Linked DNA regions of Homo sapiens: region 2 is linked to region 1. A link means that fine-mapping ties the variant in region 1 to the expression of a gene that starts in the linked region. Tissue or cell type: whole blood. Region 1 holds a variant in brackets; the other region holds the start of a gene. All regions are shown on one strand. Distances are from middle to middle.

Evidence for each region. PIP is the estimated chance that this variant, and not a neighbour inherited with it, causes the effect.
Region 2: it holds the start of PRCP, and the variant in region 1 is fine-mapped to the expression of PRCP in whole blood (INTERVAL, PIP above 0.99).

Annotation. Positions count from the first base shown.
Region 1 is chr11:83,068,042-83,073,712 of GRCh38, forward strand. RAB30 (RAB30, member RAS oncogene family) reads right to left here and starts at 3,856. Exons shown (of 5, transcript NM_001286060.2): 1 at 3,650-3,856. It overlaps RAB30-DT (RAB30 divergent transcript), which reads left to right and starts at 4,025. Exons shown (of 3, transcript NR_038903.1): 1 at 4,025-4,105; 2 at 4,582-4,763; 3 at 5,262-5,671. It overlaps LINC02951 (long intergenic non-protein coding RNA 2951), which reads right to left. Exons shown (of 3, transcript NR_186233.1): 3 at 4,361-4,655. RefSeq lists enhancers at 1,746-1,795, 1,816-2,045, 3,809-4,298. The variant C/T (reference allele first, on the strand shown) is at 2,745.
Region 2 is chr11:82,896,854-82,903,168 of GRCh38, forward strand. It overlaps PRCP (prolylcarboxypeptidase), which reads right to left and starts at 3,577. Exons shown (of 9, transcript NM_005040.4): 1 at 3,382-3,577. The coding sequence starts at 3,549. DDIAS (DNA damage induced apoptosis suppressor) reads left to right here and starts at 4,883. Exons shown (of 6, transcript NM_145018.4): 1 at 4,883-4,969. It overlaps LOC124902602, which reads right to left and starts at 5,202. Exons shown (of 2, transcript XM_047427953.1): 1 at 5,195-5,202; 2 at 4,061-4,828. The coding sequence starts at 5,202. The coding sequence ends at 4,171. RefSeq lists enhancers at 3,303-3,352, 3,473-3,532, 3,683-3,782, 4,063-4,112 and silencers at 4,323-4,372, 4,423-4,512.

The sequences.
Region 1 (5,671 bases):
TTGAATCCAGAGATGGAGGCTGCAGTGAGCTGTGATCATGCCACTGCACTTCAGCCTGGGCGACAGAGTGAGACTCTGTCTCAAAAAAAAAAAAAAAAATACAAACGTTAGCTGAGCATGGTGGCGGGCACCTGTAATCCCAGACAATAGGGAGGCTGAGGCAGGAGAACTGCTTGAACCTGGGAGGCGGAGGTTGCAATGAGCCGAGATTGCGCCATTGTACTCCAGCAAGGGCAACAAGAGCAAAACTCTGTCTCAAAAAAAAAAAACAAAAAACTTAGTGTCTCTCTAAACCCTCTGTCACCACCCTAGATCTAAGCACCATCATCCCTCATACAGACGACAAAAATTATTTGCTACTTGGTCTCTACACATTCACTCTGACCAAGTCTTTCCTTCAATCTCCTCTACTTAACAGCCAGGATAATATTTTAATATCATCCTACATATGCCATTCATCTAGTTTTTTAAAGCCAGGCTAGGTTCTCATTAGCCTTAGGATAAAGACCAAAATACACCTGTAGCTCAAAGAACTGCCTACTCTCTAGCCTCTGCCCACCTCTCCAGCCTCATTCTTCATTCTAGTCTTTCTCCTCTTGCTCTGTCTCTAACTTCCTTTCAAATCCTCAGGTTCACCACTCTTCCCTTTGAACTTTGAACATGAAGTTCCCTCTGCCAGAAACCTTTGTCCCACTATAAGCATCTCCCACTGCCATCCTGAATTACTACTTCCGTTTACCCTCCAAGTCTCTTGAAGTGTCACTTCCTATAGGAAACCTTTCCTGATAACCCTAGACAAGGGGAAAGTACCATGTCAGGCACTCCTACCCAACCCTTTTGGAAATGGCATTCATCACACTTGCAATTATTTATTAAGTATATCCCCTATTAGAATATAAGCTCCATGAAGTCAGGGAAAGCATTTGTTTTCACTGATGTATCCACAGTGCTTAGTACATGGTAGCTGCTCAATCAATATAAATTGTCAGAATTATAGGTTGGGGCCAGATTATAGAGGGCTATAACATCAGTAAACCAAAGAGCAAGGATCATTATCCCTTTGCAAATAAGTAAACCGAAGCAGAAAGAAATGAATAGTTATTTAAGGTCCCAGAGACAGCAGTGATGAGGCCAAATCTAACACTACATTCAGCCCATTTCTCCTCCCTAGGACAATAAAAGAAACTTTGGTGGGTAAGGAAGTATTTCAGAAGAAGAAAATTAGGAATGAGAAGATGGTGCATAAAAGGTCTAAGAGGACAGCTTCTGAATCTGCCTGTTACACTAGTTGCCTCCAGATGGATAGCAGTTAGACTTTCCACACCTAGAGGAGCACTGCTGTTACATAAACAAATATAGCCACTATCACACTCTTCCCGTTAAGAGAAGAGAATAAAATAACAAACTTCTTTCCTGCACAGAGGAGAAGAAACAACCAGGGTGGGTGGGGAACTGTTGTCCTCCAAGTATCTTCAAAAAACCAAATGGGCAGTTTGGCCACCTGGATTGCTACTCAGCAATCCACAGGGAACAGGAAGAAAGAGGGGGGAAAGATCAGCCTTCCCACCACCAGCTGCAGCAAGGATAAGGAAAAAAAAAATGTATTGTATAAGGCAAGCCACTTGAAGACTACTTATTCCTTGGGAATTATGAGAACATTTCATGTAGAGCATTTAAAAACCTTGCTAATCCATAGGCAGGTGCCAGTGAAAGGAAAAGTGGCATGAGCCCAACTGCAGCATTTCATTGTTCACATGCTGCTGGGGCTAAATTATGTCTGTCACAGGAACTACAAACCAGACCAGGGGTCAGGCTCATTGCTGCTCATCCTGCCAAGCACAGACTGCAAGAAAAAGAAAAGGCAAAGAAATTCTCTTCAAAGAGGATTCTGCAAAAATATTCACATAGTCTACATCCACCCAGGAGTTCCTAGTTGAAGTGGAGGACCAGGGAGTGTGTTCTAAGATTGAAGAGAAAGAGATGTGATATGCTGGTGATAAAGGAGGGGTTTTGAAACAGAAAGGAAAAATGTAAACTGCAAATGGAGAGATAGAGAAATAAACAGAATTTCAAGAGATGTGGGTGGGATGGGGTGGGGTGGGGGGAAGAAATGAAAGTACAGGAGAGAAGGGTAGGGTGTCCAGAAGAGCAGAGCGTCATCAACAGAGAGACGCAGAGGCAAAGGCTAACTGTTGATCTTTTCCCAAATCCAAAAGCTGCTCATTGGCATCCCAATAAATCACTCTACTACAAAGCCCATACAATGGACTGTCCTTTGCATTCAGCATCAAGCAGCATTTAATGAAATATCACACAGCTACAACTTTGGAGACCTAAGGATCTGAATTTAAAATGAACAAAATTGGCTTAGCAGCAGAAGACAGCCAGTAAAGAATTTCGCCCATGTCTGACTCAGCTAGGAAAAGGTTTAGCATTCTAGAGTTAAGCAAATACTCTGGCATTTCTCCTTCTTTTGACATTCCAAGAGGGGGTGTGGTTGACCCCAGGCCCATTCATTTCCAAGGGTGTAGATCTCTCAGCCAAGACTGGCCCCATCTGTTGTGGAGCCAGCCAGCTGTTTATCTCAAAGTAACATATCTATTGCCCTAATTATCCCTATAACTCTTACAAGAGCATCATGTAAGTCAGAATGCTTTCTCTCCTGTTAAATGTCAGTTCGTTTAAAAAAACAACAATAACAAAACAACCAAAATCACTCTTCCATGGGCACCTTTCAGTAATGG[C/T]AAATGAAGGTTAACAGCGCTTCTAACTTTCCCTTTCTCTAATGTGTTAAAATGAACCCCTCTTCCCTAATCGATCTCTTCAAACCGTTATTTGTGAGTAGTGACTATGCCTCAGGAAACAGCAGCTCATTATGGTACCATTGTCAGTGGCAAAGAGCCTATGCAATGTAATTTAAAACACACAAGCACAAATCTGTCGGCTCCACTTCCAAACAATCTTGAATCCAGCAGTCGGAGAACGGAAAACATTTAACAAAAACGCTGCTTCCAGCAGCCTGAAAGAACCTTCGCCAGACACGTGAAATGTTTCTGACTGGCACGGAGTGCACCATTAAAGGACACTGTCACCTCAAATCAGCAGAAAAGGCGAGACAAACCACATAGACATACACACATAAAATAAAGCCCTACAAAACTTAAGCACGTTCATCTTAAAAATTAATAACTAGTGCTCGTCCAAGCGACATTCAAATGTTCTAAAGTAGTGCGACCACATTAATTCACTGTCTCCATTTCTCCCCACGCATCACCCCTTCCCACTCAAACCTCAGCTCTCGGGCCGTGTGTGACAGGACTGCAGTCCCCCACCTCTGCCTTCCTCAGATTTTCCAAGAGCACTCCCCAACATCCTTCCCAGCCCAGCCCCCTCTCTCCGCCTCAAAAAGGTTGAGAGGAGTTGCGACTAGGGAATTGGCAGGCACCCGTCCTCTGGCGGGGGAAGGTTGCTGGAGTTGTTCTTTGCAGTGACCCAAATGGCACAGAGCTTTTCCCCTTAGCTGTGCCTGCAAGCCTCTCCCCAATCCCCCCCACCTCCCCACCGCTCACAGCTTCCCAAAAGAAAGCCTTGAGAACTAAGCGGGAGGAATAACTTGGTAGAAGCATTTGAATAAATCACTTCAACTCACCTGGTTTGGGATTTTTCTCCCCACCCCAGGCATAAACAGAAATGGATGTGCGAATGAGTCACGCACGCAAGGGAAGGTCTGCGATGTCCTGAGTCCAAGGGCTGGAGTCAGTCCCTGCCCTGGTGCTGCTGCTACACTTAGCTCAGCTGGAGCGAGCGGCAATCGCAAGCCCAGCAGCAGCAGGGGGTGGAGAGACCGTAGCACAATGAATGCAGTGGGGCTTTTGCAATGACATCATCCCTCTGTCCAAACGTCCCCAATAGCCATGCTCGGGAGCGGTGCTTTCTGGGAACTGTAGTCTTCTTACGTCCTGAAGGGATACCCAGGCAATCCCCGAAACTACAATGCCCAAAATGCTCCAAGTGGGACGCGCCCAGAGTGAAGGAGCAAAGGGGACTCGGCCGCCATGTTAGGAGTACTGGGACGATTCCGCGGAGCCGGGCAGAGGTTTTAGGGGTGCGCAGGAGTCAAGTGGTGGTTCAGTGGGGACGGTGAGGTGGAGGACGATCTGGTCGGATAGCCGCGGGCACGAACCTGGGAACCAGAGGGTGGAGGCCATGCTGGGGACTGATGTAGGGCGGGACCGACTGGAAGCGGCATCCAGAGGCCCAGTGAGCCTCGGTCTCAGCTCCTGAAGGGGTTGCATGGGGCCCTACGCTTCCTTCTCCATTTTTTAGCTAAGAGATTGAGAGAGTCGGTTTACTTTTGGGCTTGGAGTATCATTTAGATCTGTTAACAGTACAGTTGAGAGAGTTGGTGTCTTTTGTTGAGGTGCGAGGACCCGAGGCGGCGACCCTCGCCTTTATTCGGAGAAGCCCACTTCCACCCACAGAGTTGGGGTAGTCCTCCGAAATGCATTTTTGTTTTGCCGTTTGTTTTCCAACCCCCTTTCACTCTCCCCAAAGCTTCAGATTCACTGATTTTTCATACAGGAATGATTAACAAAGGCGTCCGAAGAAATCGTTGTTGGAAGGTGACCAAGGTGGAAAGAGACGTTGCTTTGGCCCTGCAAGTAAGAAGAGAGAGGGAATAGCCTGAAGGAGTAACACTAAATTTAAAATGACACTTTTTTACCAACCAGCGAAAGCAGATGTTCAAAGGGGATATTGGCCAGGTGCGGTCGCTCACGCCTTTAATCCCAGCACTTTGGGGGCAGACGCGGGGAGATAGCGTGATTCTAGGAGTTCAACCCCAGCCTGGGCAACATGCGGAGACCCCGTACCGTCTCTACAAAAACATTAAACAAAAAAATTAGCTGGGCATGGTGGTGTACCCCTGTAGTTGCAGCTACACTAGAGGCTGAGGTGGGAGGATCGCTTGAGCCCGGGATGTTGAGGCTGCAGTGAGCCTCGATCCTACCACTGTGCTCCAGCCTGGGCGACAGCAAGCCCGTGTCTCAGAAAAGGCGGGAGGGGTGGGATATTATTGATGATAGGCCTTCTGACGTCTGGCAATAGATTCCAGAGTAACATCGGTCATGGATAAATTTTTTTTTTAACTAAGTGACTGAAACCAAAGTTAATTGTCTTTTGAGTGATTTTGCACAGTATCTCAAAATGAACTGTACTTTTTTTCTTGTGTCACTGAAACAGTGCTGTGTGTTCTTTTTCAGAGTCTGTCACACTAAGATGAGAAATGTCCTTTCTTCCTGAAGGTGTCTGATGTGTAAAAATATGATATACTTTGTGCTGTTTCCTCCCTTCCCTTTTGCATATTATTCTGAAACAACATTAACTAGTTACTTTGCGTCATTGAAGGTATGCACTTCCCCTCTATGTTAGGAGTGAATAAAATTAAAAATAGATCCTTATAACAAAGAAAGGCAGATAGAATGATTAAAAATGACCAAAACATGTTAGAAACAGTCTCTCAGGTGTATGCAGATGGTAATTACAAAAATACTTTTTCAAAAAATGATCTTCTGTGTCATGTTTCTGGGAACAAGTCAAGATGAATGAGTTTGATTTTTAAGCAGAAGTAGTATGTGTTGGTGTCATCCATGAATACAACAATGAAAAAGGC
Region 2 (6,315 bases), 170 kb before region 1:
AAATCTCTCTCATAGAGAGAGAAACACACAGACACACACCCTAATACAATAGATATTGCTCCCAATTTTACCACTGAGAAAAATGATGGCCTGACAGGACCCATTCTCCCTCTTCACTACATCACACACTAAAATGTGTGATTTGGGACTCACATTCTAGCCTGAGGGGCTCAGGTGGGAGGTACAAGGTAATAAGCATGCAACATTGTAACCACAAGCCACATATTCCAGAGAGCCCTTTATGACACTGATACCACACATACTACACATGTACCCAGAGCCTCGATGTGCCCAAGTGATGTACTATCCTCTCTCTGGTCTCCTAATTCAGTTATTTCAGGTAAAAGAAATCAAATAGTCCTACCTAACTCAATATTTGAAGACCTTGAAAAAGGAGGAAAAAATAATTAGTAAAGAATTAAAGTAAAAGATAAAAAGAAAAATAAAAAATGATTTGTGACAATTAAATGATGGTAGCCTTTGCTTTGTTTAGGTTCTTTTTGAATAATCATGCATTCACTCTTTCAACAACTATTTATTTTGTGCTTTATACTTTTTTATAGGCTCTTCTAGGTATTGTAGAGTACTAACGAGCTGGAGGGACACATACAATATAGTAAATGTGCAGGATGAAAAAAGACCAACTAAATTTCCTTAAAGAAGTCAAAGATTCGCAGAAGAGGTGAGACATTTCTGCTGGAATAGAATTATGAGTTTAAATAGTGGGGAAGAGGGATGGTATTCCAGACAGAATTTCTGACACAGTAAAAGTCACTTGAGTCTGTTAGGTTGCTAAAAGTGGGAGCTGGGATGGGGAATTATGGCAGAATATAAAGTTGGAACGACCAGCTAGGGTTACATAGTAAGGAACAATGGATTCCCATGCCAAGGTGTTTGGCCTTTATCCTGCAATCAGAGTTATGAAGAATTTCTAAGCAGGGGAGGGATAAGACCATGGGCTAAGCCTTCTTAGAGACCACTCCATAAAACCACATCCTTTATATACATAGAAGGACAGCTGGGTCCAGCTTGGTCACTGGGGCAGATATAACCACAGGTAAATCATTATAAAGTTTAATAAAAATTAAACCTTGAATAAAAAACTAAGCCTTACAGTTTTAATAATAAGTTTATTACTAGAAGGCATCAAAGTATTTCATGTGCTCTAACTTAAAAACTTAAAGTTGAGTTCACACATAGTCCTAACTAAAAATCAATGGTTCAGAAATTGGCAACTAGTATAATTATAATTATGCAATAAATACATATGTAAAAGTTTTCCTCAGAAAATGAAATAAAACTCAATTGGAATAGACAGAAGAAAAATTATTATTATGGTAATAAATACATACGTGGAATCTGTATCCTAAAATATAAATTAAATATAAGCCAGTGGACAAAATGTGGCTGAGTAAAGCTGGACTTTGCATATCATCAAAAATGGAAAAAGAAACAGTGTTGAATTATATTTCTAAGGAGTGTAGTGGCCAAGAAAAGAATCTACAATAAAGGAACATAAATTAGGAACTAAGGTACTAACAACTCATTTGTTCCCTTCCTCTTTTCTGCTGATAGTTCTCTTTTTCATCAATCCCAATGGGATTTTAGAGATCTCCCAATCCAATAGTCCTCCCCACCGTTTTACTTTAGCAGTTGAGTTCTGCAAATAGTTGTATATAAAATCCCAGCATATAAAACAGGTAAAAGCTGAAAGAGATCCAAGAGAGGGTACTAGAGCACCTAATTTGGCCTCCACTTCAGCCTTCATCCACTTTCCCTCTGAAACAGCTCCCCAAAGAGCCCTTAATTTTCCTCAGTAAAGTGTAAAACACATTGGTCCTTGTCCCAACCCTCCTAATTTACAAATGAGGGAATTATGCCCTAGAGAATTAATTTAAGGGAGTTGCCTGAGAAAAAAGATTATTTCCTAGTACCCCTGCTAAAATTAAAATGTTTTCTCTTCCTCATAAACTTGAACTCAAATGTCTGGGTTAAAAATTGTTTCTTGGCTGGGGACACAGTGGCACACGCCTGCAATCCCAGCCCTTTGGGAGGCCAAGACAGGGGCATCGCTTGAGCCCAGGAGTTCAAGACCAGCCTAGGCAAGATGACAAAATCCCATCTCTATTTTTAAAAATAAAAAAATTTTTAAATTATTTCTAAGTTATTCTGGAAGTCTATGACATCCCTCTACCACAAATTCCCATTCCAAATTCACATAAGGGCTGGGCTCAGTGGCTCACACCTGTAATCCCAACACTTTGGGAGGCTGATGCAGAAGGATTATTGAGCCCACAAGTTCAAGACTAGCCTGGGCAACATAGTGAGCCTTGTCTCTGCACAATTAACAACAACAAAATTTCACATAGGTCTATAACCACATATTATATGAGTGCCTACTTGAAGCCAGATACTCTGCTAAGAGTACGTTATCTGCTCTCATTCAACCATCACCACAAACCCCAAGAGATCAAGGAACTAGGCTCACAGAAGTACTGTAACCTGCCCAAGGTCACAGAGCTAGCAGGGTGGAATCCGGTTCTATCTGACTCCTAAAGCCAAGCTTCAGACCCTTGCACTCTTTCTAATCCCAACCTTTTCCAAATCTTTTCCTATTTTTACACAGGCTTTCAGAAATGCTGAACTGTAAGGATTACTTGTCATTTCACAGAGGATGTACTTTTCCATCAAGACCTGTGGGGGAATGCCTCATGCTGCAGCCAAGCACAAAGGCATCAAGCCCAAAAACCTCTAATTTCACGTTACAGACCATAGAAAGGCTAATCCCCACCCCCACCACAAACTCCTACAACTCCTTTTACAAGCATAGGCTACATACATTCAGTCTTATGGGGAATAGGGACTGTCAACAATTCTTAATAATAGGGCTACAAAATCAGCTCTGAGCTGACCCCTTCTGAGAGGCTGGCTTTTAGGATGGATAACTATCCAATATTTTCTAATAGGTAAAGATATTAAAATTTGTATTTAGGGCTGCCTTGGGGCAAAGGATGACTATCACCGCAGACTAGGTACCAGAGCTGGCATTTAATAATTTGAATTTGAGGGAAGGTCAAGGGAGTTCGGATTGGGGCACCCTCTGGGAGCAGAGGGAGTTGAAGTGACTGTCGTGTCCAATTACAGAAAAGCCTGAATCAAGAGTATGCAGCCAAAACTACTACCAAATTATTGGTAATGGGAGGAGAAAATTTAAACAGAACTGGGATTTGGGACCACCTTCTGGAAGATGTTAGCCAAAAACCGAACAGATCCTAGGCATCAAGGGGTGTGAATTTCGAGGTAGGCTCCGTTGCCCGGGCTCTGAGGGTCAGGGTTCCCGGCGGTTGGGCCTGGGACGGCGAAGCCCCCGCTCCCCCTTACCTTCTGTTGGAAGTAGAGAACCGAATAGTTCTTGGCTACAGCCGGGAGGGATGTGGGGTTGGTTGGCAAGTGTAGGCTGCCGAGGGCCCTTAAGGCCGGCCGGAGGGCTATGGTGGCCCAGGGCGCCAGAAAAGACAGAAGCAGGAGCAGGAGGGCTCGGCGGCCCATGGCTCAGGCTGGAGACTGCAGTGCGGGTGGGAGGGCGAAAAGGAGGCCAGCAGAAGCGCACAGGCTAAGCCCTGCCCAGCCTGCAGCTCCGCCCGCCGCAAAACAGCTCCTCCCAGGGGAAACCCAAAGCCAGCCAGCTCCTCAGAGACGCCGCCCAAGCCAGGTCACCACAGCCACTCCGCCCCCATCCCCGAGGACACCGCCTCCACTCCACTTTCCTCTCGTGCCATCTGCTCCTTAGCACTCACCTTCATTGCGGTCACACCCCAAGTCTGCCCTTATCATGCTAGGGCCTCTTCCTAACTCATCGCTGTAGCCCATGCTTTATCTATAGCGCCCCCGAAGCCCACCTGTCCTTCAGGTCACCCAATATCCCTACCATTATCATCACCACCAAACCCTGCCCTGGCCACCGCAATTCCATTGCGACACCTCCTGCCTTCCGCAAATCCTACGTAACGGCAATAACAGCTACCATGACAATTTATTGAAGGTTCACTACAGGCCAGTGTATCACGAGGCAGGGAGGCACACGCATCATCTCCTCTAACTAAATCGTCACAGCAATCTTGTGCGTCGTATATGATTGTTATTCCCATCTACAGATGTGGAAACTGAGGCTCAGAGAGGTGCGGGAACTTGCACTAGATCACTCAGCAGTGAGCGGAGCACGTCGTCGCAGACCGCTGGGTCCAGGTCCAAAGACTGTGCTCCTTGCACCCACCTCCATCTGGAGCCTAACCACTCCCTATGATACTCCGTTCTTGGGTCACCCCAAAACTGTGTTGCTCGCACAACCCATCCATTACACAGGTCGCCCCGGGTCCACATCGCCCCTAAATCCCGCCAGGTCCCGGTCCCTTCTTTCAAATAACGCCCCCTTTCTTCTCCGGCACCCGAAAACCCACTCCGCGCTCCACCCCCCTCCTGCCTCCTGCCACCGCCCCCTTCCTCCCTCCGCCCGTGGGTAGTGCTAGCCCCTAGGACAGCGCCGGGTCTGGCTTCCAAAGCTCCCTCAACCCTCTTCATCCAGCTTCCATTCCCTCTTTCAGTCACCCCGCCAGACCCCAGGGCGCTGCGGCTCACTCCACACTTTCCCGGGAACCCTACGCCCAGGAGGCTCAGCGAAGCTCCAAAACCAATTTTACGGACTGTACTACTGATCCACCTGTCGGGGAGAAAGACTCTACCCGCAGTTTGACGAAAATGGTCGTTTCCAGATGCTTGTAGGATTTCCTCGCTAAGCTCCACCCTCTGCGGCGCCTTCTTCTGATTGGCTCTGAGTAATCAGAGCCAAAGCGTTACTTCCGGCGGAAAAGGACGCGGGAGATTCGATTGGAAGGCTGCCGGCGTGCTACTGAGTTCGGCCGGTCCGAGTCACTGTGCGTCGCCTGGGCCCGTTCCTGGTCTTCTCCCCCAGGTGAGCTGGGTAAAGGGGTTCTCGGGAAGCCGAAGAGCCGGAGACTCCTAAGGAGGCTCTTAACTTCATTATGAATGAGACCCACCCAGAGCCCGGCGCTTGTTTTTTCACAAGTGGTTCTCTGTAAACGGGCAGCCATGAGGGTAACAGAATATAAACGTCAGTTATTTTATTTTAGACTCAGTGCTTTTGCAATCACCTAACGAACGTTTATTGAACACTTACAGTGCCATCGAGCTAGACTCGGAGTGAGCTTTTAGAATCGGAAATAGAGAGGAAAAGGCGCGACTCTTGCTTCTGTAATGTGCAAATACGTATTCAGTGGGCCACTGTGCAGAGTAGTACGTGCTGAAAGGGGATCTTCCAAAATGCTATGATGGCTTAGAAGGAACATATTTTAACTGAGCCATGTGCTTAAACCAGAGCTTGAAAGTTTTCTTCCTTTTCACATCCAGCCAGTCCCTACCAGCCTCTTGAATATCTCAGATCTGTTCACTTCTCTCCGTTTTTTACTGACATTATTTTGGTTCGACCCTATGACTGCTACATAGCTGTGACAGTAACCCCCCCCTCCCCCGCCGCCCCAGCTGGTTCTCCTGCTTTCAATCTTGCTACCTTCCAGTCCAGTCTCCACATTGCTGGGCTGATAAAGTTCATATTTGACCGAGGCACTCCCCATTGAAAACCTTTCAGTCGCTCCTATTTGCCCTCAGGTTTAAGCCCAAACTCTTTAACATGACTTACAGACTCTTTCCTATCTGACTTTTGCCTGGCTCTTCAGCCCTAGTGGTTTTCCACCGCTCCAGCCATATAGAATGTCTTTTGTGTTCCTGAAGTGCACTATCCTCCTTCTCACCCCAAACCGTCTTCTGACCCTGTCCCTGACCTGGCTAATTCTTAGTCAGTTTGCAAAGCCTTTTAAATCAGAAACCCTTTCCTGACCCCACAGGACTGGATCACAGAGCACCAAGTAATTATTTGTTTATTCTGCAGATAGTTAAATGCTTCTTTCGTCTGTGCCAAGAATTGCTAGGTACTGAGATCCAATGATGAACAAGGTAGATTCCTGTTCTAATGGAACTTACCTTTTATGGATGGAATTAAGGAGAATTTACAAGGAAACTATGTGAATTAGACTGGTCTAAGAAGACCTTTCCAAGGAGTTGATACTGATGCCTAAAAGATGAGCGTGATCCAACCATGCAAAAGAGGGAAAGAAAAACATTCTAAACAGAGTGAACAGGTTGTGCAAACGTCCTGAGGCAGGAAAGAGCTTGACATGTTAATGTTCAAGAATCTAAGGAAAGACCAGTATAGCTGGAATATATTTAGAAAGGACAGTTGTA